Linked DNA regions of Homo sapiens: all the other regions are linked to region 6. The links come from fine-mapping of genetic effects on gene expression. A gene starts in region 6. Each other region holds a variant in brackets. All regions are shown on one strand. Distances are from middle to middle.

Region 1 (4,069 bases), 160 kb before region 6:
AACATCTGAGGTCAGGAGTTCGAGACCAGTCTGACCAACATGGTAAAACCCCAACTCCATTAAAAATACAAAAAAATGGGCCAGGCGCAATGGCTCACCCCTGTAATCCCAGCACTTTGGGAGGCCGAGGTGGGTGGATCACGAGGTCAGGAGATGGAGACCAACCTGGCCAACATGGTGAAACCTTGTCTCTACTAAAAATATAAAAATTAGCTGGGTGTGGTGGCGCGCACCTGTAATCCCAGCTACTTGGGAGGCTGAAGCAGGAGAATCGCTTGAACCTTGGAGGCCGAGATTGCAGTGAGCCCAGATCATGACACTGTACTCCAGCCTGGCAACTGAGCGAGACTTCATCTCAAAAAAATAATAATAATAACACAAAAAATTAGCTGGGCATGTTGGTGTGCACCTGTAATCCCATCTACTCAGGAGACTGAGGCAGAATTGCTTGAACCCAGGCCGCAGAGGTTGCAGTGAGCCAAGATCATGCCACTGCACTCCAGCCTGGGGGACAGAACGAGGTTCCGTCTCAAAAACAAAAAAAAAAAAATTGAGGGTTTCTTTTTGAGGTGATGAAAAGGTTCTAAAATTGACTGATCATTCACATCTCTGTGAATATACTAAAAACCATGGAATTGTATACTTCATATGGGTGAATTGTATGGTATGGGGATTATATTTGAATAAAACCATTATTTAAAAAAATACTTCACAACAAATTTGTCTTTAATTAAGTTTCTTGTACAGTGAAAGTCTGTCATTTAAATTTCTCTTTACCCATTTTATATTTACTGCTTCTCCAAGAATAAGGCATTCACAGCAGAAGTAGTTTTGGTACTTGGTGGATTCAAATGGCATGTTGGTCAGCTACAGCCAGCAACTGCTAGAAAATTATCTTTAACCTTTAAAAATTATTATTACAAATAAAAATTTACTACAAATATTTTGGCGGTGTCCATTCCCAGAAAAGTCTTGTTAAACATAAAATTGTTTTTCTTATAACAGTTTATTTTGGAGTAATTTTAGACTGACATAAAAGTTGTGCAGGTGGTATGGAGAATCCACCTATAATCCTCACTCAGTTTCAATTTCCCCTGATGTTATCATCTTACATTATGGTGATACATCTGTCAAAATTAGGAAACCAACATCAGGATATTACTATTAATGAAACTCCAAGCCAGGCGCCGTGGCTCACGCCTGTAATCTCAGCACTTTGGGAGGGTGAGGCGAGTGGACCATTTGAGGTCAGGAGTTTGAGACCAGCCTGGCCAACATGGTGAAACCCCGTGTCTACTAAAAATACAAAAATTAGCCTAGCAGTAGTGGCACGTGCCTGTAATTCCAGCTACTCAGGAGGCTGAGGCAGGAGAATCGCTTGAGCCTGGGAGGCAGAGGTTGCGGTGAGCCAAGATCGGGCCACTGCACTCCAGCCTGGGTGACAGAGTGAGAGTGTCTCAAAAAACAAACAAACAAATAAAACCCAAAACTCCAGACTTCATTTGGATTTATTATTCCACTAATTCCCTTTTTTTGTTGGAGGTCCCAATCCAATACTACATACTCACTATATTTAGTCATCATGTCCCCTTCGACTCCTCTGGGGCCTGTGACAGTTTTTAAGACTTTCCTTGTTTTTCATGCCCTTGACAGTTGGAGTACATCTAGTATTTTGTAAAATATCTCTCGATATGAGCTTATCTGATGTTTTTCTCATGAGTAGGCTGGAGTTATGAGTCTGGGGAAGATTATCACAGTGCTAAAGCGGCCTTCTTGTCACATTCCACATGAGATCCACATGACTTACCACTGGTGCTGTCAACATTCATCACGCGGTTAAGGTGGTGTCTTTCAGGTTTTTCCACTTCAATGTTATTATTTCGCCCTTTCTATATTATTTGGAAGCAAGTCACTAAGTCCAGTGCATGCCCAAATAATTTTTAAATGTGAAAATTATTCCTATTTTATTCGTTTCAAACATAATATTCATTTGCAAGATTCTCTAAGATTATTAAAATTGACTGAGATTCTCTTTTCCTTTC[G/A]TCTTTAATACTTAACTTTAAATTTTTGGATTCTAATGGTTTGGAAAAATAAATATTTTAAATTATAAGATAATATGACTGTTGCTTTCCAAGAGGTGTAATGTAAATTTAAACAATTACCTTTTTTATTTTAAAATATTAATTAGTGGGAAAACGCTGTGAAAGTATAACAAACTTTACTAATACCAAGGGAAAATAAAAGAGAGTATTTCTTATAATCTTGGAGTGGAAAGACCTCTCTAAAGGTCTAGACACAAAACATAGAAACTTGAAAGGAAAAGATTAATAAATTTGACTAAATTAAAATTTTAAAAATATGTATAATATTTTAAAATAATAATTTAAAAATCTATAAAGACAAAAATAACTGTAAGCCAATAATAAAACCAACAATTCAATAGAAACATGGCAAAGGTCACAAATATAGAATTCACAGAAAAAGAAATATACTTTATAAACATGTGAAAAGATGCTCTAACCTGATTCAAAATAAGACAAATATATATTAAAACCACAAGGAGGTAATGTTTTTGTCGCATTACATTACAAAGATAAAAAAATTGATAAAACACACCACCGTCAATATTGCAGAGAAGGAGGTACTATCCCACATCGTTGAACTGGTGCAAAAATTTTGGTTGGTAATTTGGCAAATATCTGTCCAAAATGTTGTAATTATGCATCTTTTGACTAGATATTCCACTTTTATAAATTTCTCTAACAAATATACTTGCATATGCACAGGCACAAAGATACCTGCAAAACTGTTCATTACAGCATCGTTTAATAACAGGGAAAAACTGAAACCAGCTAAGTGGCTACCACCAGGCAACAGTTAAATGTAGTATGAAGCAATTACATAAGATGTTATGCAGTCATTTAAAAGGTAGATTTCTGTAAGGGGATGTGGACTGTCTTGCAAGATGTATTGTTAAATGAAAAAGGCAATGTGAAAAATGGTGTAGATAGTATTCTAGTATGTCTGTAAAAACAGAAATATTCTTTATATAAATTTTCTTCATAACCACATATAAATTGCTCTATTGGCTGTTCCTGGAATTAAAATATTAAAAAATTATAAATAGTGGTTGCCTCTGGGGAGGTGTTGTGGGGCTGCACATGTAAACAGGGAATATTTGCCTCTCATCATCGATTGATTTTTATTATTCAACTTATTTGTTTTAAACACAGCATTTCTTTGTCTATTATAATTTTAGATATCCAATAAAAAATAAATATTATAAATCAAGTGCATGTATAATGTGTAGGTTAAAGCTTATCACTTAGAATCTCTAGAATTTCCAGTTCTTTTGCTGAAGTAACTTGTACTTCTAGAAATCACTTAGCCAAACGATAGGAGGTGAAGGTGAAACTGTTACTGATGCCCAACCTCTCTGTTGCGGACTACCAAATGAAAAGTTGTAATGAATATACCATCTCCCATTTCACCATCTTCTTGAATCATTTTGAGGCTTGGATTATTTTTGTTTCTATAAGTGGCTTGACTTTTCTGCTGGGAACTGCTGGCATGTTTGTGATGGAGTTAGGGGCACTGGCTTGTTGGGTGATTTGTTGCTGCTTAGTGACATACACGGATCGGAGGAAACAAAAACCCCAACTCTCCCACAGCTCCATTTTCCACACCTGCAGTCTCAACCGGAGTCCTTAGGTTTCGGTATATCGTTTTTGTTAATTACATCCAATCCAGACTTCAAAGGCATTGGTTGTACAAGATCATACACTGAGGATGACTTGTTATTCAAATTAACACCTAGTACAGTTCTGTGGTAAAAATAGCCTTGTTGCAAGGAAGTTTCCTTGCTTTGTAAAACCGTTTTAGATTTAATAGGATTTTTACCTATATGAACCTTCGATTATACCACCTTGTGCTGTTCTAGCCAGTATCACTTTTTATGATTAGATCAGTTTCCTTTTTCTAAGTGTTATGAGTTGAAATGTGTCCCCCCAAAATGAATATGTTGAAGTCCTAACCCCATACGACCTTATTTGGAGATAGGGTTTTTATA
Region 2 (4,069 bases), 32 kb before region 6:
GTGACCAAAACTGAAAATCAATATTTCCATGTTTCATTAATCAAGGCATAAAATACAATTAAAGCAAAATATTTTACATTAAAATCTTGGTTGTGTATTTTTTTAAAAGAAGGGAAATAGTTTAGTTTGGGGTGGAAATTACCAGTGATTTCTATTTTTATTAAACCATTCACTACAACAAATAAGTATAAAAATTCCAATTCCACTTTTATACCTATTTATTTGTTGTAGTGAATGGTTTAATAAATGGCAGATTTATGTCCAGAAGTCACTCTATTTTGTCGTGTATTAGGGGAACACATTTTGACATTTTTCGTACCAATCATCAATCATATTCCCTTATCTTGAAGTTTTTGCCTTATATTCAAAAAGTTCAGTTTGAATTCTCCTTTGCCAGGTGTGAGGATTTCCGCACCTTAGAGTCAGCGCAAAACACGCTGCAACTTGAATCAAGTCAGCAACAGAGCACACTATGGGTTAGATAAGTCCCTGTGTAGCAAGTTTTCAGAATAAGAAATAAAATCTAATTCTTAGGGTATTAACTGACTTGACTTGAACTCCGTTGGTTTACCATGTTAGTAAACTGTGCTTTCTATTATTATCATCTATACATAAAACCTGAGCAGCAACTGTGTGCTGAAGCAACCGTGTGTGAAGTCTTCACAAAAGAAAGAAAGACTTCAAAGCCAAAGAATGTCCTATTTGCTAATATGAGCAAATATTTTGTTTCACAATGTACTATCATTTATTGGTGACTGCAATAATTTACTGTCAGTAAATGCCAATAACTAGTTAGTTAGAAATTGTAAAGTAGGCCAAATAAGAAGCAGAGAGAGAAAAAAAATCACCTCCCTAAGAAAAGGGTTTTCCTACAGACTTGAATGCACTCTGCTTTTTCAGAAGAGATACTGTACCAGTCAGGGAAATAGATGACACTCACTCAGAATTATCTGAGGAGGGTTCTATAAAAAGATTTTTTGCAAAAGTGCGAGCACATTATGTAGAAACCACAAGTCCGCCAGGACTAGTAAAAGCCAGACTCCCACTGAGGCCACTAATCCTGAAGGGATGAGGAGGGAGCAGTTACCAAAATCCAGAGGTGGAGAAGGCTGTGTGGAAAAGAGGGTCCCCTCTCGGAGCTAAGACCCTCAGGGGAGGCCAGCCCGAGGCATCCCGCAAGGGAATCAGGGAAGAACACCTCCACCTACTACCTCCTCCGACCCCAGCTCCAGCTCTCCGGCTCCCCACTGACCAACATCCAAAGGGCAAGAAAGCTTGATGACTTGGCCTTTACAAGTCAGCCCCTGGGCATGGAGCAAGGAAGAGGGATGGGCAGCGGGTCTGGAGGGGTGAGCCGGGAGAGCTTTAACCCAGTCATCGTCCGGCTTAGTCTCAGATCCAGGTGTTCATTGTTCAGTAGTCGACTATTCAGAGTCTTTCGAGGAGACTGATGAAACAGTTTATGAATGATAAACATGGGGTACAGGGTTTTGGACACGGGTGCTTAAGCATAAACTATAAAATGAGAAGAATAAGGTACTTTATTCTTCTGTGGCAGGGAACCCAACACTTGGGTTTACGTTGCAGGGCAACACCTGTGATGAACAAAACACATGGTAGCGATAGCCCATTCATGAAAAACTAACAGCTATTCTTTTCACAGGGATAGTCAAAAAATGAGTTGAAGGGAAAAAAGTATCTCCAGTTGGAGCCAAAACAGCCATCTCTAGTTTGAAAATACACTCAACAAAATGTTGGTGATTAGAGATAACAGGAACC[T/G]GGCAAGGGAGGAATTTTTACATACGTTCAAGCTTTTCACTTTGCAGCCACACTCTGATTTTATCAAAATTCTTATCCATCCAACCGATGTTTTCTTCAATGGTTTCAATTGTCTGTTGGACACAACGGAGCTGAGAACCATTTTCTTTCAAAGAGCTGAAGAATCCTTTTACCTTGTGAGGAAAAAGTGGGTTTTAAAAAATTAATTTTATCACATTAATCAGATGTAACTTTAGTTAAAACTGAAGCCAAAATTCCAGCATTTGTCAAAATTCTATATAGAAGGCAGTCCCAGCTGTCTGAATAGGATTATGTACACATAAGCTGTATGAAATGAGCTCATGCCTCATGATGTCAAGTTCTGTTTTTTGTCTGCAGTTCTTTTGTTTATTCTCAGTTGCCAGACTTTAAAAGACTTCACTGTTTACCATTTTATAATTAAGGTTTAATTGTGTCTATTTAATGTGTTATTCTGTTCTGTTCTCACAGATGCAAACTTCGTTTTTTAAAAACATGATATCTAAAAAGCAGAATGTGCAGAGTCTTTTCTTTGCCAAGCAAAACAGTTTCCACCACGTAAGTGCTGTCTTTCTCCATGGGCCTGGCCTTGTATGTTATTATAGAAACACTGTGGGGAATGGGATTCTTAGCAAGTTATGGCGGTAAGACCCAAACCTTGCCATTTTTTTTATCCTAATCTACAATTCATGTATTGTTGTCTCAAGATAAAATCCACATAAAGTTCCCCATGATTTTAAAGAGATAAGAAACTCTTGGCTACCTCCTGAAAAATATGTTTGTTCTTGTTTCATTTGTGGGTATCTTAATTCACCCCTTGAGCTCACATGACAGATAGGCTGGCTTTGCCACAAGATTGACCATTGTGCGATTCTGTTTCACCTTAAAGGGTTATTATCCTTTTCCCATAAATTTTCACAGCATTAATCCATCAATTTTTGATTTGGTATTCAGGAAGCGAATGTAGACCATGATGTATTATTTATTCAGCATAGATTCCAGACAGCCAGTTCCTTAGAAATCCATGTCATAATACCATATTATTAGTTTGGGAATAAAGAGGGGAGTAGGAATGGGTTTTAGAAAGATCAGAATTCAATTTTAAATGATGCAGAGTTGTTTTAAAATTATATGTCAATACAGTGCAACTTTACAATGAGCAGAAGGCATGGCCTCCTGCTGTAGCAACCTGGAAAACACTTCACTCTCTACTTTAAGTTGTAGCTCAACCTACTGTTTCATACGCTCTCAGAATGCAAGATTAATTCACAGTCGATTAAAAATCACTGAGCACTACTCAACAAAGCACATCAATAATTTTACTAATTGTTCAAATCATTAATCCTAAAGGAGCTCATCATGATAGCTCCACTAAAAACAGACCTTCTACAACAGCGAAGCCAGCTGTTAACCATTACTCTTACCCTTGTCCTGACCCAAAATCATCTCTTCTGTCTTCACCTGCCTTGGAAATGCAACATCTCCACTGAATATTTGATTCAGACTTGGCTCTTTAAGAACAATTTCTGTGCAATAAGTAGCACAATACAGGGATAGGAAAACAGGTTTATCCTACTAACTTGATTTGAGCAAATGATTTAACTTCTATGGAAGCCAGTCTCCTCATTTGTAAAATGAAGAGCAGTGGTGAAGGATGTAGTTATATAATGCAGGTAAAGTGCAAAGCCCCAAACCCAGCATGTATCAGGGACTTAACCTCATCCATTTGTTCACCAATATTTACTCTGATATTTATTCATCCCTCTGCTGTAATTACTGTGCTAGACACTGAGGATGCAGCAGTGAATCAGGCAAGCATCCTCCCCTCATGGAGCTTACAGTCTTTTGGGGTATACAAGCAGTAAATATGATTACTGTAAATAAACTGCTATGAAGAAAATATGCCAGGGGTATGCTAGTAACTGAGGAGATGTGGCCTGCATTGAACAGCATGGTTTTGGGGAAGGTGATCTGAGCCGAGACCTCTCAAAGATAAAATGCCCCTTTCTAGTGAAAAGTTGGGGAATGGGCAAGCCAGGCAGAGAGAATAAAAAGTGCAGAGGCTTAAAGACAGGAGAAACATGTGGTAGCCCAGGAGCAGAAGGAGGCTGAGTGGCTACAGTGTTATGAGAGAGTAAGCCAGGAGCGCCTGTGGGAATTGGCACCAGAGAGGTCCTCAGAAGCCAGGTCTTCAAGGTCATGGACACATGGGAAGGAGGGATTTGGAATTTACTGCAAGAACAATAGGCAGGGTTTCAAGAAGCCAGGGTCA
Region 3 (4,069 bases), 110 kb after region 6:
TCAACGAGCAAGCATCAGGAAAAGTTACTGAAGTAAGTTCAATAATTTAACTAAATTGTTATAAGTAAACTGACACAAATTCAGTGAAGTCACTAAAACTTCAGCCACCAGTTTTAAAGGCATAAGATAATTGAATCAGAATGTGTATGGCTTTAACTTTACTTTCAGAAAAGAATATATTGACAAAATGCAAATAGTGAAAACAGGTATTCCCTAGTTATTAATCATATGATTGAGACTAGACAAGCGGTTATGTTTTATCTTCAGAAACTTGAAGAAAAATTATTGTTGTAAAAATACATTCTTGCATATAAGATGTGTAAATGATGCTAATCAAACTTATTTGAAATAATAAGTAAATGTTTTTGATAGGAACAAAATAAAAATTATTTCTAAAAAAGTAAAAGTTTAATTGAAACATTAAAAAATTGGTAATTATACTTTTATCATGCCTCTTTCTGTTCTATTCTTTTAATATATTGGTGGCTTGAGTTAATGTCCATGTACATAATACCTACTATTTAGAAACAAATTATTTTTCTTTCTTCAGGTTAATTGAACTAGGAATGGAAGGAAAGGTTATCAAGACACAGAACTTGGCAGCTCTCCTTCATGCGATTGCCAGACGTCCAAAGGGGCAGCAACTAGCATGGGATTTTGTAAGAGAAAATTGGACCCATCTTCTGAAAAAGTTGGTATTCATTTTCATCCAATGTTTGTTCTTCCATGCAGATGTCTCAGTTGCCTCAAACCAAGTGTAATCAAATGTTTCTCAAAGCATATAAATAATACCATTTGTATCCAAATAGTTCAGTGGAGTCAACTTTGAAACTCCCTAGCCCAAATTATCCTGTCCAGGAGTAAGGGAGAGACATGAGAATAAGGGAATGGGAAACAGCCTTCTCTCATTCAGTCCAGGCAAGAAACCACTGGCATCAAGTCCGAGTTGAATTAAATGCAGTCATCAGCCCCCTCCCACCATCCCTTCTTGGCTCTCTCCTCAGCCCAGAAGAATCCCAAGATGCCTTGTATAGTGCATCACACATATGTGGCCTCATTTGTTAATGCAGTTTTGTACTGGGGGAAAATCTCAGGAATTTTGGTAAGAGCTACTCCTCACCCCTAGAGCCCCTGTGGAGGTGGCACAGTGGAGACCTTGGTTCAGGTGAAAGAAACCTAGTCAGGAGTGTTTGGGGAGCCCTCCCTCCAAATTGTTTTGGTTCTGAGTCTTTTCTGGGGTTTCAACTTTGGGGAGAACTGGAGCTCATTTCAATATGTTCCTGGATCTAAAATATCCCTCAGAAATAACCAATAATGATTAGATTTTGTTGGAATGGAATGTATAAGACAGCATTGCTTTCTGTCTCTCTCTCTCTCTCTCTCACACACACACACACACACAATCACAAAACCCTATAAGGCATTCAGCCATTCCTCATCCAAATCTAAAATGTCATTTATGACTTATATGAAAATATCTTGAATCAGAGAGGTATGATTTGCTTTGTTTATGTCAGGGTCAGTTAGCATCCCTGATATCATTAATTCCTAGTTCCTTCTCTTTCATTTCATAGCCGTGGAAGGTTTAGAGTCCTCACACAGCTTTGCGTAAGCAAAAAGCACATTTCCACTCCTCTCCCAAATGCTCAAGGAGTTGACGTCCACATGAGACCAAATAGAAACTGCTTTAATATGTATGTTTGTGTATGTTTCCTTTAAAACTCTACTTGAGCCATTGATTTGTCTGTTTTCATGATTGTCATTTTCCTCCTGAAATGATCAGCCTTAATCTACAATGCTGTGGATTTCATTTTAAACAGGAAATGATGCCCCTGCCCAACCATGTGCAGAGCCTAGACTTGGAACCATATTTTTTTCTGAGCTGTAACTGTGCTCTGCTTTATCAACATGAATCACTTTGACCTGTAGTACAAGTTTTCCATATATAAAACATTGGGTTGAAGGATGCATTCTGTGGCCGTGAATGAGAGTTCAACCAAGTAACATTGCCCCACTAAACACAATGTTTAAACACAGTGGTATCCAAAATGGGATGAGGAAGTGTGCAAGAAGTGCAATACATTAGAGTGTCTATTATTTCTTATCTAATTTTAAATTTTATATTGTTATAAATTTATAAACATAAATGATATATAGTATAAAAAGTTAAATAAATACATTATTTATTTCATGCTTTTAATTTTTTTACCATACCTTAACATATGCATATAATTTTTTTTAATTAATTTATTTTTTTTGAGACGGAGTTTCATTCTCGTTGCCCAGGCTGGAGTGCAATGGCGCCATGTTGGCTCACTGCAACCTCCACCTCCCGGGTTCAAGTGACTCTCCTGCCTCAGCCTCCTGAGTAGCTGGGATTACAGGCATGCACCACCATGCCCAGCTAATTTTTTTGTATTTTAGTACAGATAGGGTTTCTCCATGCTGGTCAGGCAGGTCTCAAACTCCTGACCTCAGGTGATCCACCCACCTCGGCCTCCCAAAGTTCTGGGATTACAGGTGTGAGCCAC[C/T]GCGCCCAGCCCATATAATTTATAAATAAAAATATGTATATTGGGAAGTTCTTGCTCAAAAAATCTTTACTGACTGGAGTATGTAGTAACAAAAAAAGTAGGGAACACTGCTTTAAACAGAAACATAAAATTAAACATAAACATTGCTGAATAACTAACCATATTTCCCAAAGAAGCTGTATCTACATTTTCATTTTATAGTAAAATTTGATAAGTTTCACAGCTTTAGAATTGTACTGGATGAATGTTATTATGGTAATTCACCGTATCTATTGTAATACACAAGCTTATCACATAGTTATTAATATACATTAAAAATATAATACATGATATAATAAACATAAGGTCAGTATTTCTATGACTTTCTATGGTGTTTCTTTTTATTTTCAGATTTGACTTGGGCTCATATGACATAAGGATGATCATCTCTGGCACAACAGCTCACTTTTCTTCCAAGGATAAGTTGCAAGAGGTTTGTGACTTTCTGTTTTTAACAATTTCAAAATAAATGTTCAAATTGTGGAATTGAAAGTAAACTTAGATATAATCTGATTTGAAGTTCTCATTTTAGTTTTTAAAAAAGTTGTTTGTCCAATGCCATATAGCAAGTAAATGGAAGGGACAGGATTAAAACCTGACACTTGGCCAGGCACAGTGGCTCACACCTGTAATCCCACCACTTTGGGAGGCCAAGGCAGGTAGATCATGGGGTCAGGAGTTCGAGACCAGCCTGGCCAATATGGTGAAACCCTGTCTCTAATAAAAATACAAAAATTAGCAGAATGTGGTGGCACGCACCTGTAGTCCCAGCTACTTGGGAGGCTGAGGCAGAAGAATCACTTGGACCCAGGAGGCGGAGGTTGCAGTGAGCTGAGATCACACCACTGCACTCCAGCCTGGGTGACAGAGTGAGACTCCATCTCAAAAAAACAAAAAACAAAAACAAAAACAAAAAACAACAGCAAAAAAAAGCCCCTGACTCTTAAAATACTTAAAATACGTGTATTCATAGCATTCAAAATGAAAATAGACTTGAGAGGTGAGCCCTTTTGTATTATTTCTTTCATATTGTATTACGATGCAAGAGTGATTATATTAAAGTTTGGAAGCGTACTTAATGATCTTTTTAACAAAACTATTGTTGGTAATTCTAGTTATCTTTTTTTTTTTTTTTTTTTTTTTGAGGCGGAGTCTTGCTCTGTTGCCCAGGCTGGAGTGCAGTGGCTTGCGATCTCGGCTCACTGCAAGCTCCGCCTCCCAGGTTCACGCCATTCTCCTGCCTCAGCCTCCCGAGTAGCTGGGACTACAGGAGGCTGCCACCATGCCCACCTAATTTTTTTGTATTTTTTTTTAGTAGAGATGGGGTTTCACTGTGTTAGCCAGGGTGGTCTCGATCTCCTGACCTCGTGATCCACCCACTTTGGCCTCCCGAAGTGCTGGGATTACAGGCGTGAGCCACCAGCCTATCTTTTTTTTTTTTTTAAAGCATTATAGTCTTTGCACCTTCTTTTCACAATAAATCTTGAATTTATTTACCC
Region 4 (4,069 bases), 26 kb after region 6:
GTAAAACATATTGACTGGTATCAAAGCAAACTTTGCTCCTGGTGTATGATAGAACTTCTGTCCCCTGAGATGAATGCTGGCCAGGAGGCAGTTACATTTGTTCCAAACCTGACTTGCCAGTTGTATTCTTTAGGTAGTTACTTAAGTTAATAAAATGTTATTAAATCAATGGGTAGAATAGAATGTTGCACCTATGAACACCAAGTCGAATATTTTGGAAAGTCTTGATTAAATTGAGTGGAATTGGGGGTATATATAATAGCTGCAAAAGACTGAGAAAAGTTGTAAAAATATAGAAGAACTACACATTCAGATTTTTCCACAAATGTCTTTAAAGTCTTCCTTTGAAATGAGGAATGCATAAAATTAAAGGATTTGAAAAAATTCTTTCTGGGCCCCTTCCAGCTTGTGTTATTTTATGACTTTTATCCTTGAAAATATTTAATCATCTTTATAAACATGAACAGGATTTGTAAAATGTATTTAAGTCTCTGAAAATGTGCTATAAGTAGCAGATATCATTGTACGTACAAAGAGACAGTGATGCTACAAATATCTTCGATTTTATCGATGTTCTTCCACACTGCTTGAATTGCATTCATGATCCCTTTGGGCTGATGTCATGGACTGAATGTTTGTGTCTCCTGAAAATTTATGTGATAAAATTTAGCACCCAATGTGATGATATTAGAAGATGGGGCCTTTGAGACTAATTAGGTCATGAAGGTGGAGCCATCGTGAATGAAATTAGTGCCCATATAAAAGGGATCCCGGGGAGTAATCCTGCTCTCTTTCTGCCACCTGAGGATACAAGAATTCATCAGTCTACAACCTGGAAGAGGTCTCAGCCATGCTGATGCCTTAATTTTGAACTTTTAGCCTCCAGAACTGTGAGAAATAAATTTCTGTTTTTTATAAGCCACCCAAAATACGCTACTTTGTTACAGCAGCCTAAACTGAGATAGCTGATAAATTTGGAGACCAATATTTAGACAGAAACTGAAATTATTAATTACATTATTCAATCTGCCAAAGGTGACACTTTAGGATTGCTGTTGTCCAGCTGCAAATCTCTTTGTGTTCCATTATGCTTCTCCAGTGGATGGGGTCTTGAGCTTCATGAGTAAAAGATGTTCATTACACCTTCTGTGCTTTGATCATATAAATATTTCTCAACAGGTTATTTTTGGAAATGTATGTTTGTTTACTGATATCAAAAGGGTTTTTTGTATGTGGTTATATTGGTGATCAAAATGGTGTCAAGATAAAAATGAACTATTTTGAAGGACATATATATTCTCAATCATAAAGTCAATTCAAAATGTTGGTTCATTGAGGTTCTCCTATATACAGATCACTATTTTAGGGAGTGGGAAGACATGAAAATAAATAGAATTTAGTCACATGGTTCCTGACCTCACCTTGTGTAAAAAAATAGCAATTAGCCGAGCATGGTGGTGCGTGCCTGTAATCCCAGCTACTTGGGAGGCTGAGGCAGGGGAATCGCTTGAACCCGGGAGGCGGAGGTTGCAGTGAACCAAGATTGCACCACTGCACTCCAGCCTGGCGACAGAGCAAGGCTCGGAAAAAAAAAAAAAAGAAAAGAAAAAGAAGATAGCATGTGAATTCTGACAGGATTTTCTTTCCTTCAGGTTCAGCCCTCCATGTGTCTTCTGATTTTCCTGTCCACGTATCTTTGTCTTTGTATTCATTAAAAAAATTGAATACTCCCAACTTATTAATGTAGTAGTAATGATCCATTGCTGATTGTACCAAAATGCATGCCAGTTGAAGTAAAGTTGCTAATTGGGTAGCCACAACTAGTTGAAATGAAAAACTGACACTTAAAATGGTAGATATAGCTTCACAGAATGAGAAAGCGGTAGCCTTAATTTGTTAGCATCATCAGATATTTAGTTCCTCAGTAATTCAGTGACTTCCGCAGTTAGTTAAAGCTTTCAGTAAAGAAAAATGTTTTTAAATACCTCTCTCTGCCACAAGAATCTCCTTCTCCAACAAATTAATTTCCTTCTTGCCAAGGTATGTGTGTACTTGTCAACCTTCTCAACTCATGAGTCTGCATTCAGCAGAAGGGGTCCTATTCCAGCTCTCCCACTTACTATTTGTTAGAGTTTGTCAAGCTTTCCAGTCTCAGTTTTCTAATCTTCAGTATAGAATAATAACCCCGACCATAAAGAGCATTGTGCACAATGGGCCTATTATTAATGTTCATTTCTTCTGTGAGTTCAACACAGTGATCAGATCATATCCAATTTGAGGAACTTAAAGTTAACTGCTAAGTTGTGATATGGTAAGTGGAGTCCTGAGTTTGATGTATGTGAACTTATACTGAGACAAAACTTTTACCTGTGGTCTAGTTCACAGTAAAATGAACTACTGGAAGAATAAAAAAAGATTTGAGAACTCAATCAAAATAAAATCAATCCAAATAAATGGTAGTGCAATTTGCTGAGTTTCTTCAATGAAGAAACATACACAATAAACCTGTGAATGTTATCA[C/A]TGGAAGTGTTTGATGCTGTGGGAAGGAATAACATTTCTATTTCACTGTTATTACTAAATCATAATTGCATGGTGTTTAACCTCTACTGTATAAATCATCTAATGAGGATTCATTTCTATGTAATTTTTTGTTACACAAAGAAACACTGCATAATACTTACCCAGTAATAGGCAGTTTTTTAGACCCATTGAATCAAAATCTGATTTGGGGACTGTAAATTTACATTTTAAAGAAACACCCACATGATTCTTAGGCACACAACCGACTGAGAACCACCAGGATGAGGGCCTTTAGTATTTGTTGTGTGCTGTCCCTTTCCACATTTCAAAGAATACTAAGGGGCTGTTAGGCGTGTACTAGTGGCTGAGAAGTTTGCTTTCACAGTAAAGAAGGTAACACCATGACACTGTCTGTGGCTTAAGATAAAATTATGATATTTCTTGAGAAAGACAAAACTCTGCTGTTGACTGTCCTAGAAGGCTAAAAGGATAATTGGAGTTGTCGAGCTGGTTATGACCAAAGCTGCTTTAGAACTTCTTTGGAGTTTGAGTGATCCTTGCCACATGGTGAGATCTTCAGGGACCTGTCAAGTTCCTGACAAGAACTTGATTGAGGACAAGACACTGCTCCTTTAAGCCACATGAATTGCTACAAGGATCTTAAAATACACAAATGAAGACCAGGTAGAAGCTCAGATGCTGGTCTCAAATTCCAACCCTGTTGTCAGGATTTTCTGTCATATATCTTTTTAAAAACAACAAAGTAGAACATCCTTACATGTAGGGAAGTTTATTTGTACGAAATGATGTTAAAAAAAATTCCAGGTGCTTTTTAAAACAATTATTGCTGATTGTTTTGTTGTATATTAATAATACCTCTATGTGTTTGATTTTAAGTCTAAGTTTACAGTGTGTTTTCCTTCTGTATAACCATGTTTTACTGTACTATCATAACAAATTTACAGTTGTACAAACATGAATAAATCCTTCAAAAAGCCAGCAGTACGAAGGCTCACAAGTCGGAAAGGCCCATCCTACTTAGTAGGTACTACAAACTTTATCAACTGGAGCAGGGTCTTCAAAAGGAGGGGTTGGACCTCTGGGAAACCACAGAGGCTTTCCAAGGGACACCCAGGCAGACAGGTGGTTCTAACAGGGCATCAATTTCCTGAATTTCAACTGCAGGCATACTCTATCCAAACATGATCTGAGAACACTCTTGTGGTTTTAAGGTTATATGGGACCTCCGTTTCACCTTTGCTTTCACTTGACAAAAGAAGGAACAACTTCTCTCCATGGTTAATACTACTATGATACAATTTCTGAGATGAGAAACCTGCATGAGTCAGAGAGAAATGTGAAATAATATTTCTGGTATTGAAAAAATGAATGCCTTCAATGACCGGAAAACAAATCCTTTTACATTTCAGGGATTTTCCACCTCTTTGGTTTTTTTTTTTTTTTTTTTTCTGTTTTTTGTTTGTTTGTTTTCAAGACAGAGTCTCACTCTGTCACCCAGACTGGAGTGCAGTGGTGCAATCTGGGCTCA
Region 5 (4,069 bases), 250 kb before region 6:
TGAGCGACACAGAAGATGGGTGATTTCTGCATTTCCAACTGAGGTACGTGTTCATCTCACTGGGGAGTGTCAGACAGTGGGTGCAGGACAGTGGGTGCAGCGCACCCAGCGTGAGCCGAAGCAGGGTGAAGCATCGCCTCACCCAGGAAGTGCAAGGGGTCAGGGAATTCCCTTTCCTAGTCAAAGAAAGAGGCGACAGACGGCACCTAGGAAATCGGGTCACTCCCACCCTAATACTGCACTTTTCCAAAGGTCTTAGCAAACGGCACACCAGGACATTATATCCCGCACCTGGCTTGAAGGGTCCTACGCCCATGGAGCCTAGCTCATTGCTAGCATAGCAGTCTGAGATCTAACTGCAAGGCGGCAGCGAGGCTGACGGAGGGGTGCCCGCCATTGCCGAGGCTTGAGTAGGTAAACAAAGCGGCCAGGAAGCTCAAACTGGGTGGAGCCCACTACAGCTCAAGGAGGCCTGCCTGCCTCTGTAGACTCCACCTCTAGGGGCAGGGCATAGCCAAACAAAAGGCAGCAGAAACCTCTGCAGACTTAAATGTCCCTGTCTGACAGCTTTGAAGAGAGTAGTGGTTCTCCCAGCACGCAGCTGGAGATCTGAGAACGGACAGACTGCCTCCTCAAGTGAGTAGCCTAACTGGGAGGCACCCCCCAGTAGGGGCAGACTGACACCTCACATGGCTGGGTACTCCTCTGAGACAAAACTTCCAGAGGAACAATCAGGCAGCAATATTTGCTGTTCACCAATATCCGCTGTTCTGCAGCCTCCGCTGCTTATACCCAGGCAAACAGGGTCTGGAGTGGACCTCCAGAAAACTCCAACAGACCTGCAGCTGAGGGTCCTGACTGTTAGAAGGAAAACTAACAAACAGAAAGGACATCCACACCAAAACCCCATCTGTACATCTGCATCATCAAAGACCAAAGGTAGATAAGACCACAAAGATGGGGAAAAAACAGAGCAGAAAAACTGGAAACTCTAAAAAGCAGAGCGCCTCTCCTCCTCCAAAGGAATGCAGATCCTCACCAGCAACAGAACAAAGCTGGACGGAGAATGACTTTGACGAGTTGAGAGAAGAAGGCTTCAGAAGATCAAACTACTCAGAGCTAAAGGAGGAAGTGCGAACCCATGGCAAAGAAGTTAAAAACCTTGAAAAAAATTAGACAAATGGCTAACTAGAATAACCAATGCAGAGAAGTCCTTAAAGGACCTGATGGAGCTGAAAACCACAGCACGAGAACTATGTGACCAATGCACAAGCCTCGGTAGCCTATTTGATCAACTGGAAGAAAGGGTATCAGTGATGGAAGACCAAATGAATGAAATGAAGTGAGAAGAGAAGTTTAGAGAAAAAAGAATAAAAAGAAATGAACAAAGCCTCCAAGAAATATGGGACTATGTGAAAAGACCAAATCTACATCTGACTGGTGTACCTGAAAGTGATGGGGAGAATGGAACCAAGTTGGAAAACACTCTGCAGGATATTATCCAGGAAAACTTCCCCAATCTAGCAAGGCAGGCCAACATTCAAATCCAGGAAATACAGAGAATGCCACAAAGATACTCCTCGAGAAGAGCAACTCCAAGACACATAATTGTCAGATTCACCAAAGTTGAAATGAAGGAAAAAATGTTAAGGGCAGCCAGAGAGAAAGGTCGGGTTACCCACAAAGGGAAGCCCATCAGAATAACAGGGGATCTCTCGGCAGAAACTCTACAAGCCAGAAGACAGTGGCAGCCAATACTCAACATTCTTAAAGAAAAGAATTTTCAACCCAGAATTTCGTATCCAGCCAAACTAAGCTTCAGAAGTGAAGGAGAAATAAAATACTTTACAGACAAGCAAATACTGAGAGATTTTGTCACCACCAGGCCTGCCTTACAAGAGCTCCTGAAGGAAGCACTAAACATGGAAAGGAACAACTGGTACCAGCCACTGCAAAAACATGCCAAATTGTAAAGACTATCGATGCTAGGAAGAAACTGCATCAACTAACGAGCAAAATAACCAGCTAACATCATAATGACAGGACCAAATTCACACATAACAATATTAACCTTAAATGTAAATGGGCTAAATGCTCCAATTAAAAGACACAGACTGGCAAATTGGATAAATAGTCAAGACCCATCAGTGTGCTGTATTCAGGAAACCCATATCATGTGCCGACACACACAGGCTCAAAATAAAGGGATGGAGAAAGATCTATCAAGCAAATGGAAAA[C/T]GAAAAAAAGGCAGGGGTTGCAATCCTAGTCTCTGATAAAACAGACTTTAAACCAACAAAGATCAAAAGAGACAAGGCCATTACATAATGGTAAAGGGATCAATTCAACAAGAAGAGCTAACTGTCCTAAATATATATGCACCCAATACAGGAGCACCCAGATTCATAAACCAAGTCCTTAGAGACCTACAAAGAAACTTAGACTCCCACACAGTAATAATGGGAGACTTTAGCACACCACTGTCAACATTAGACAGATCAACGAGACAGAAAGTTAACAAGGATATCCAGAAACTGAACTCAGCTCTGCACCAAGCAGACCTAACAGAAATCTACAGAACTCTCCACCCCAAATCAACACACTATACATTCTTTTCAGCACCACACCACACCTATTCCAAAACTGACCACATAGTTGGAAGTAAAGCACTCCTCAGCAAATGTAAAAGAACAGAAATTATAACAAACTGTCTCTCAGACCACAGTGCAATCAAACTAGAACTCAGGATTCAGAAACTCACTCAAAACCGCTCAACTACATGGAAACTGAACAACCTGATCCTGAATGACTACTGGGTACATAACGAAATGAAGGCAGAAATAAAGATGTTCTTTGAAACCAACGAGAATAAAGACACAACATATCAGAATCTCTGGGACACATTCAAAGCAATGTGTAGAGGGAAATTTATAGCACTAAATGCCCACAAGAGAAAGCAGGAAAGATCTAAAATTGACACCCTAACATCACAATTAAAAGAACTAGAGAAGCAAGAGCAAACACATTCAAAAGCTAGCAGAAGGCAAGAAATAACTAAGATCAGAGCAGAACTGAAGGAAATAGAGACACAAAAAAACCCTTCAAAAAAATCAGTGAATCCAGGAGCTGGTTTTTTGAAAAGATCAACAAAATTGAGAGACCACTAGCAAGACTAATAAAGAAGAAAAGAGAGAAGAATCAAATAGACGCACTAAAAAATGATAAAGGGGATAACACCACAGATCCCACAGAAATACAAACTACCATCAGAGAATACTATAAACACCTCTACACAAATAAACTAGAAAATCTAGAAGAAATGGATAAATTCCTCGACACATACACCCTCCCAAGACTAAACCAGGAAGAAATTGAATGTCTGAATACATCAATGATTGGCTCTGAAATTGAGGCAATAATTAATAGCTTACCAACCAAAAAAGTCCAGGACCAGATGGATTCACAGCCGAATTCTACCAGAGCTATGAGGAGGAGCTAGTACCATTCCTTCTGAAACTATTCCAATCAATAGAAATAGAGGGAATCCTCCCTAACTCATTTTATGAGGCCAGCATCATCCTGATACCAAAGCCTGGCAGAGACACAACAAAAAAAGAGAATTTTAGACCAATATCCCTGATGAACATTGATGCAAAAATCCTCAATAAACTACTGGCAAACCGAATCCAGCAGCACATCAAAAAGCTTATCCACCATAATCAAGTGGGCTTCATCCCTGGGATGCAAGGCTGGTTCAACATATGCAAATCGATAAACGTAATCCAGCATATAAACAGAACCAATGACAAAAGCCACATGATTATCTCAATAGATGCAGAAAACGCCTTTGACAAAATTCAACAACCCTTCATGCTAAAATCTCTCAATAAATTAGGTATTGATGGGAAGTATCTCAAAATAATAAGAGCTGTCTATGACAAACCCACAGCCAATATCATACTGAATGGGCAAAAACTGGAAGCATTCCCTTTGAAAACTGGCTAAAGACAGGGATGTCCTCTCTCACCACTTCTATTCAACATAGTGTTGGAAGTTCTGGCCAGGGCAATC
Region 6 (4,069 bases):
TCTGTGATCATGTTCGTGTGTTTGGCTCTTCCCCTGAAAAATTAGCTCTTGTTTGGCTTTGCTTCCAATAGTAAGTGTTCCAGTTTGAAACATGGCATTTCATGGTTCTGGCTGGTCTCCTAGGGTCTGGTTTTACTAACAATTTTCTGAAAGGGAGGCAGTTAAAAAAAAAGAAAGCTCTCAAAAACAGTAGTCTACTCAATATAAGCAGCTCTTCCCAAGAGAAGTACAATTCTCTTTGAAGTTACACTCCACTAACACTTAAAGGAATAGAAGCCAAGGAGGAAAAAGAACTAATATTTACTAAGCTCCTCCAAAGTGCCAGGCACTTTACACATGCTCACTCTCTCTAATAGCCTATTATTCTCATTCAAGGTGGGGTAACTGAAGCAAAGAACCATTCATGTAACTTTGCTAAGTTCACACAACTTGTTGGAATGCAATCCACATCTGTGTGAGTATAAACTCCCTGCTTTTTCAGCTTCACCAAGATCCCTCTTTTTTTTTTTTTTTTTTTTTTTTGAGACGGAGTCTCGCTCTGTCTCCCAGGCTGGAGTGCAGTGGTGCGATCTTGGCTCACTGCAACCTCTGCCTCCCTTCCTTTTATTGGGGCACTATAGTATATGAAATAGATCATCAAGAAGTAATTGAGGTTCTTCCAGAATTTCCTGAACAATGAAATTAACAAGCACTGTTGGTAAATAATAAAAATGCTGGATTAATTTGAAAAAAAAAAAAGTACTAGAATGTTTCTATTCAGGCCGCACCTGAAAATGTGCTACTTATACTAATTAAAAATCCTCAGGCAAGAGACAACTGTGCCCAATTTTCAAGTTTTTTGTTTTGTTTTGTTTTGTTTTGTTGTTTTGTTAATTGTTGACCACGTCCTGAGTTCAGAGCGAATCCTCTGGGTGTTTAATAGGAAACAGATAATTTCTTTCTGAACCTAGCCTACACAAAGAAATCCAAAAGCGTGAGGAAGTGTGTGCTCTCCCCCTTCCCCTCATGGAATTAACTTTGTAGGACCACCTGGCCAGTGAGGCACCCAGATAGGAAACTTTTAATTTGCGTCAACAGAGGTGCTTTATCTGAATAAAACCCAGCCAGAGCCAGAGCGAAGGGGAGAGAGAGAATTGCTGACCAGAAGAACAGGAGAAGCAGGGAGGGAAGTGACCTTAAGAACACACACGGCCCGCGCATCCCACCCCACCAGAGTCTTTAACCCAAAGCCTCTGGGTTTCTCTAGCAGCTATGGGCAGGTGCCCTCCTCAGCCCGAGCCAGCTGCCCGCCCCACCCCGCCTTTTGGCCTCGCGCGGGCGTCGGTGGCCTGCAGGACTGGCAGGCATCCAGGCGCCAGGCGGAGCGCTGAGGGAGGCTCCCGCCGGCCGAACAGCGGGGAGACCCGTGAAGCAGGCGCACCGGCCACGCGCCCGGAGGGACAGGGACAGGGACCGGCAGGGGTGGGCCCGCCGCCAACCCGCCGGGCACCCCGCGGACTCGGGCCTAGCCAGCGACTCCCCCCGCCCTTCCCGCGCCCTGTCTCGCGCCCCGTCGCCTTCCTCCCGCGCCCCGTCGCCTTCCTCCCGCGCCCCGTCTCCCTCCTCCCGTGCCCCGTCTCCCTCCTCCCGTGCCCCAGGCCCTCAGCCCCCCACTTGACGGGCGCAGGGAAGGGGCGGGTGCCGCGCTCTCCTCCCGGCCCGCAGTCCCCTACCCGCGGCTCGAGCGCGCTGTACCTGGGGTTCTGGGGCCGCCCTCACCCTTGCGCCGCCGCCACCACCACTGCCGCCGGCCTAGCTCCCCCAGGACCGAAAGTGAAAGTGGAGCCCGGGGAGCGGCAGGCTGGCGCTGAGCGGCGCTTCGGCCCGAGCCCTAGCGGCAGGCGGGGAAGCCCCTGGCTAAGGCGGGAGCTGGGGAAAGGGTAAACGGGAGTGGGGCCGAGCGAGGGAAGCCGCAACTCCCAGGAAGGGAATTGGTAAATGAGCGCTGCACGCCGGGGAAGCTGCGAGGTTGCGATGCGGGGGATCAGGCGTAGGAAGTGCACGCCTTTCTGAACGCGGATCCGTGTGTGTGTGTGTGTGTGTGTGTGTGTGTGTGTGTGTGTGTGTGTGTGTGTGTGTGTGTGTGTGTGTGTGTGTTGAGATGCTTTTTGTTTTTGTCTTTTTTTTTTTTTCACTGTTTAGCGTTGCGAGGGTTAGGGGCATGCAGGAAAGGGCCGGTGCTCAAGTTGGGGACCGAAGCCAGGCAGGCGCTGACAAGTCCACCAAGCCTAGACGCGTTCGACGCCCATTGGACTCGCTGGGTGTCCGTCATCTCGCCACTGCCAGTGGGCTGAGAGCTCTTGGCCCGCCTCGGAAAGAAACATGAACCCAGTACTCTGTCGTGGCAAAGTGCCGCACCTTCTGGGGCTTCGGTAGAGAATGACTACAGTGGGAGATGCTGTAGAGGAGGAAGGTGGGTTAGAGGTGGCCCCCAGGACTTTCCTGCACTACCAAGGGCCACTGTACCCCAAGGATTAGCTGCTTCCCGCATCAACACGTTCCCTCTGATTTTTCAAAGTAAATGACCATTTCTTCACTCCCCTTAGAACAATTAAAGCTGAATAAAATGGCCAAAAAGACCATCTTTAAACAGTTGAGGCTAAATGAGGTAACAAGTCAAGAAAACACAAACATTAAAACACCAAATGCTACAAGTTTATTACCGAAAATGGGTCCCGATCCAGACCCCAAGAGAGGGTTCTTGGATTTTGCGCAAGAAAGAATTTGAGGGGAGTCCATGGAGTAAAGTGAAAGCAAGTAATTAAGAAACTAAAGGAATAAAAGAATGGCTACTCATAGGCAGAGCACCCCCAAGGGCTGTTGGTTGTCCATTTTTAGGGTTATTTCTTGATTATATGCTAAGCGGGGGAAATTATTCATGCCTCCCCTTTTTAGACCATATAGGGTAGCTTCCCGACGTTGCAGTGGCATTTGTAAACTGTCATGGAGCTGGTGAGACCGTAGCAGTGACGACCAGAGGACACTCTCATTGCCATCCTGGTTTTGGTGGGTTTTGGCCAGCTTCCTTACTGCAACCTGTTTTATCAGCAAGGTCTTTATGACCTGTGTCTTGTGCCTACCTTCTATCTCATTCTGTGACTTAGAATGTCTAACCTCCTGGGAGTGTAGCCCAGTAGGTCTCAGCCTTATTTTACCCAGCTCCTATTCAAGATGGAGTTGCTCTGGTTCAAACGTCTCTGATAATTTGGTGAGTGGACCATGGTCCTAGTGGGAACAGGACCCTTTTCATGCGGTTCTCAGACTTTCTTCTCCCACTTCTTTATTGGCCTTCTTCCCTTTGAGAACTGGGGATTCCAAGTCACTGCAACAGTATTTCTCTTTTTTTTTCAATATTATGTTTCCTTTTTAAAAATATAATGTTTCATACTGCCTATTATCTCTAGTCAAGGACATTTTATAATATAAAGATTAACACCCTGTTCCAAGACTCAACTACGGTGGGATCCAGGGAAGTTTTTTTCACTAAAATTCAACAAGAAATGAGGACTTTGAGATCTGGTAATTTCTGCATGTTCAGAATTTGACAGGAGGTATCAATGGATAGCGTGTAGCCTCCAAGACCTCCAGACATCTCGGAGTGCTCCCAGTTTACTCAAGATGAGACCTCTTTGTCCAGTAAATGTATGCATTTCTTTGCTTTTATATTTATATTTTTGAATATGATGGTTTTCCTTTGGCTTCTAGTAAAGTTTTTTTGTTTTTGTTTTTGTTTTTTGTTTATGTGTCTTTTTAAATACATATTGAAAGTCCAGCTGGCAGAACTGAATGCACCCAACAGGCTGGAGGTTAATACAGAAGACAGCTGAGGAGACAAACAGGGCAATGCCCTGAATGGATGTGGGCAGAAAGGAGCTGAAGTGTAGGCGAGGAGAGAGCTGACACCACCACCCGCTCCACGCCGTTTCCCCAAAAGCTCACCCTGACTCAGACTTTAGCCTGTCGCCCTGGCCGTGATTTCGTCTTTAGAGTTGAAGTGCACTACAAAGAGCGATAAGTCAGAGGATTTGGC
Region 7 (4,069 bases), 46 kb before region 6:
GACTGAAGAAAATATTGCAATGATTTTCAAACTGTCCTTCTACTGAAGGTTTAAAGATGACTCTAACTGTTGAACACTCAGTTCTTATGTGGCATAAATATGTCATGAAAAAGATGGGGTCACATAGTTGCTTCTATGAGTAATTATGGTGCTAATCTTAAAATCTGACAAATATAACGGTATCAGCTAAAGTTACTTAAATGTGTAGATGTAAAAATTACATACAGCATACATAGAATATAACAAACAGTTAAATTATTTGCCATTATAAGTATTGATTCAGTAGCAGGAAAACTGTCAATATATTGTAGTGGTATATCAAATAGAAACAAATAATCATGTCCATGTAAAAGATCTATTTAAAATTTTACATATACTCATATTATAAATAAAAACTTTTTAAAAAGTAGGCAATCCCCTAATCTGTTAAAGAGTCTTTAGTTTTCAGAATCAAATATTCAATATCATGCTGGAGGCATTTTCCTTAAAAGCAGAAACTATGAAAAGTTTATTGTCATTTCTGCTTATTATCACATGGAAGAATCATTAACAACACATGAAAAAAATGACAAACATTAAAAGGGAACATTTGAATATATTTGTGGATAGCACTACTTGTAGATAATACATTTGTAAGTAACATTATGCCATGTTTATTAGTAACAACAGATGAGAAAATGTAATTAATATGAGATCAGACTTAATGTAAACTATAAAAGGAGAAATGATCAGAAAAATAAGGACACAAAAAAATTGAAGGCCATACATTAAGTCAGTTTAACTAAATATCTTAAAAAGAATGATGACAATTCAAGTCATTTTATGTGTTAATTTTTTATTAAATAGCAATAAGATACTTTTATAACTCAATAAAATTATTCAATGATACATTCGGAAAATAAATGTATAAAATATGAAAAAGTACTAAAAAGCATTTTTCAGTACTTTTAGGTAAGATTAATCCAACTAAACACTAGCATATGTTATACAGTAATAATAAGTGGAAAATACAATAATGTTGAGAAAGCAAACTCAAAGCATAGATCAATGAAAAAATTGAGAAATGGACATAAATGATTTAGTATTTTTAAAGAGAGTGAAAAATCATTATTTTATGCTTTTGTGTAGCATTAGATGAATTAAATAACATATGCACATATAGCTTTGCGATACAAATTTCCAGACCATAGGTTGTTTCATACTTAGTATTAAAAGGCTTAAATAATAAGTCAATAAGATAGTTTAAGAAGAGACAATACAAATGTTTCAATGTCATTCTTTTCATTTGACAACTTGTTATTCTTTTCATTTGTCATATAAGCAAAGATTTCTCATAACTAAAAATGAATTTAATTTAGTACATTTTGGATTACCTAAAATATTACATTCTAAAACGGCTTTACAGGGTATAAATGGACAATAAGTATCTTATAGTTATCTAAATTAGTTTAAATAATTTCCAATAATAACATGCTGAAATGAATTTCTGAATGTTGGTATCTTTTTAATGTGCTTTTCTCCATCTTTTGGTAAAATTTGCAATTCTCCTTTTTCAAAATAAGCTATCCATAGTTGGAGTCACCAAAGAGTTCTGGACTTTTTTCTGGTTTTTCATCAACAGTTATACCTAAGTTTTTTTGTCAAAAGGGAGTATTTGAAATGAAGCAAATATTCAATATTTTTAAACAGAAATTATTTCAGAAAGTTTCTAGAATATTTAACGTTGAAAAAAAACCCTGAAACCTGACACCGTATACCACAATATACAAGCAATAGTAGTATATCATTTTACACTGATTATCATAATAAAAGTCAAATTCTGGCAAGCAAGGCCATGGGAAAACAGGCATGCTTATTCATTGCTTTTCGCAGTATGAATTCCTAGCAACATTTGAGAGGGCAGTTTAGCAAAATATAGCCAGCACCATAACTCACTCACTAGAACTTATTCAGAGCAATTTTAAAAGAGCTGAAAACTTTGAATAACCTAAATGTACAACAGGAAATGTGTAAACAAACCGTGGAACTCTAAGTTATATTATTGCATAGTATTTAGAATAATCAATATGAGAAGGAAATAGAAATAGCAAATTGTATAAAATAATACAATAGAGAAGAAAGAATTTAAATTTCTTTTAAAATTATATGT[T/C]ATTATGAGTCTATTTGGTCAAGAGAATAAACAGTCATTAAGCTATCTTTAAGAGTTATAGTTAAGTGATGGCATTGTGCTCATAATTTTATATACAACATGTTACTAATAAAATTTTTTTCAATAAAAGAAATTTGAAGATGCTAAACTTGCTGCTGCCATCTCTGAAGTGGTTTCCCAAACCCCAGCTTCAACGACCCAAGCTGGAGCCCCACCCCGTGATACCTCGGTAAGCAGCACATCTTATTTGGGAGATAAATGTTTTTGCGCAGCCACAACTAGAAAGAAAATAGGGCGCCTGTTTAAAGCAAATGAAAATAGGCAGAATTATTAGGAAGATCAGGCACCTTCTATTTCAGAAGAGCCGAGACTGATGATTTAGCGAGATGGCAGAGATTAACTTTGAAATGATTAAATGAAACTATATATGTGAAAACATTGTACACATAGTCAAGGACCTTAATATTATTGTTGCTTTATAAGAATTGAAAGTGCAATAAAGTGCATTGTGTCTATATTCAAATTACTAGATTTGAAAAGTTCTTTAGCTTTCCTGATAATTGATTTTCTCCTTTATATTTTTTCTTATACATTCTATAATTTACTACCCATTATTTAACCTCAAGTTTATTTTATGGAATCGTCATGTTTGAGCTTTTACAAACATTTTACAAACGTCATGGAATAGCATTGTTTTCTTCCCAATTCACACCAGTAAAAATTTGTCACTTTCATACTAGCAGTAGAAGAACCTCAGCATCAATATTGTTTTAATTATTTACATGCTGTGAGGCAAGGCTGTGGGACCAAAGCTTTTCCAGACTTCCTTGACTAATCACCTGTGCAATACCAAATTATACATTACCAAGGAGACCACAGCACATCAAATTATAAAGGGATTGCCCTAAACCAGATCCCCATCTCCTTTGGTTGAGAACAGTGCCTCATTTGCTAGATGGAGATGAAGTAACTTTAGCGAAGTCAGCTATGCTTCCATTCCGTTTGATGTAGCATCAAAGCATATTTAGTGCTGTAGTCTGAGATTCTGATGGATTTTCATCCTGTTGCGTCAGCTTCAGGATCATCTGAAAATATCCAGAGGCACAAATGACAAAGCCCAGACCTGGCCCCGGGCAGCTCTACCATTAGCAGCTATAATCCTGGATTATAATAAAGCACTTAAAACCAGTAAAATGCCCCGTGTGTGTGTATGTGCATGTGCATGTGCATGTGTGTATGTAAACACACCCACAATGAAGAAAGTCCCCATGCAACAGAAAGGAAGAATCATTAATAGCCTAGGCTGCCGTTTACACTTCAGTTCTTAATATTCAGGCCAGAGATTCTGCCCTGATGAAGGCTATCAGTAAACATTTGCAATCAAAAACTTTTTTGCCTTTAAGAAGTAGGTTTTACAATGACACTTCTCTGATCACATTTCCCATCAGAGAGGCTTGTTTTTAGTTAACATTTTATTTGAAGATGTCACTAAAACAAGGTATAAAGCTTTATTTAGATAAAAATATTAGGAAATCGAAGAGTCAAATAAACCATGATAATTCACGGGAGCTTTCTTTGCTGTGATTATTAGATTGTTACTAACAGTGTTACATACACTGAAAGCATTTGAAGACATGATTTCAAAGATCTGTGTAATAAAATCACTCCAACAGGAAAACTGCTTCAAAGAAAATAGAAGATCATGGATGTGACTAAGCATGACAGGGAAAAGCTTTATCAGTCCCAAGACCTGGGTTCTATTCACTTTTTAACAATTTGTTTTCAAGCAACTGACTTAGCTTCCCTGAGCTTTTTACCTCAAAAAAAAAAAGCCTGCTTAGTTCACTGAGAACCATTGTGGGCATCAAATAAAACTGGATAGTGTATGTGAAAACATTTTGAAAATCAACTGGAAAGTTC

The links.
Region 1: its variant is fine-mapped to the expression of ERAP1 in whole blood (INTERVAL, PIP above 0.99).
Region 2: its variant is fine-mapped to the expression of ERAP1 in whole blood (INTERVAL, PIP above 0.99). The same link has a PIP of 0.9 or more in T cells, esophagus mucosa, iPS cells, lymphoblastoid cells, monocytes and pancreas.
Region 3: its variant is fine-mapped to the expression of ERAP1 in fibroblasts (GTEx, PIP above 0.99). The same link has a PIP of 0.9 or more in caudate, esophagus mucosa, subcutaneous fat, visceral fat and whole blood.
Region 4: its variant is fine-mapped to the expression of ERAP1 in fibroblasts (GTEx, PIP above 0.99).
Region 5: its variant is fine-mapped to the expression of ERAP1 in whole blood (INTERVAL, PIP above 0.99).
Region 7: its variant is fine-mapped to the expression of ERAP1 in whole blood (TOPMed, PIP above 0.99).

Annotation. Positions count from the first base shown.
Region 1 is chr5:96,643,515-96,647,583 of GRCh38, forward strand. It overlaps a transcript of CAST not described here. Among named protein-coding and RNA genes, the nearest start is that of CAST, 17 kb to the right of the region's middle. The variant G/A (reference allele first, on the strand shown) is at 2,043.
Region 2 is chr5:96,774,600-96,778,668 of GRCh38, forward strand. CAST (calpastatin) reads left to right here. Exons shown (of 32, transcript NM_001750.7): 32 at 1-84. It overlaps ERAP1 (endoplasmic reticulum aminopeptidase 1), which reads right to left. Exons shown (of 19, transcript NM_001040458.3): 19 at 1-1,952. The coding sequence ends at 1,797. Among named protein-coding and RNA genes, the nearest start is that of ERAP1, 31 kb to the right of the region's middle. The variant T/G (reference allele first, on the strand shown) is at 1,780.
Region 3 is chr5:96,912,767-96,916,835 of GRCh38, forward strand. ERAP2 (endoplasmic reticulum aminopeptidase 2) reads left to right here. Exons shown (of 19, transcript NM_022350.5): 16 at 1-32; 17 at 551-691; 18 at 2,922-3,003. It also overlaps a transcript of ERAP1 not described here. Among named protein-coding and RNA genes, the nearest start is that of LNPEP, 21 kb to the right of the region's middle. The variant C/T (reference allele first, on the strand shown) is at 2,532.
Region 4 is chr5:96,832,208-96,836,276 of GRCh38, forward strand. It overlaps a transcript of ERAP1 not described here. Among named protein-coding and RNA genes, the nearest start is that of ERAP1, 26 kb to the left of the region's middle. RefSeq lists a silencer at 3,772-3,821. The variant C/A (reference allele first, on the strand shown) is at 2,521.
Region 5 is chr5:96,555,296-96,559,364 of GRCh38, forward strand. The region is part of intron 4 of LOC101929710 (a long non-coding RNA gene); the gene reads left to right. It also overlaps a transcript of CAST not described here. Among named protein-coding and RNA genes, the nearest start is that of CAST, 110 kb to the right of the region's middle. The variant C/T (reference allele first, on the strand shown) is at 2,239.
Region 6 is chr5:96,806,126-96,810,194 of GRCh38, forward strand. ERAP1 (endoplasmic reticulum aminopeptidase 1) reads right to left here and starts at 1,820. Exons shown (of 19, transcript NM_001040458.3): 1 at 1,735-1,820. LOC124901033 (a long non-coding RNA gene) reads left to right here and starts at 1,333. Exons shown (of 3, transcript XR_007058879.1): 1 at 1,333-2,452. RefSeq lists a silencer at 1,241-1,700 and enhancers at 1,273-1,774, 1,775-2,274, 2,431-2,500.
Region 7 is chr5:96,759,995-96,764,063 of GRCh38, forward strand. It overlaps CAST (calpastatin), which reads left to right. Exons shown (of 32, transcript NM_001750.7): 25 at 2,280-2,378. It also overlaps a transcript of ERAP1 not described here. Among named protein-coding and RNA genes, the nearest start is that of ERAP1, 46 kb to the right of the region's middle. The variant T/C (reference allele first, on the strand shown) is at 2,150.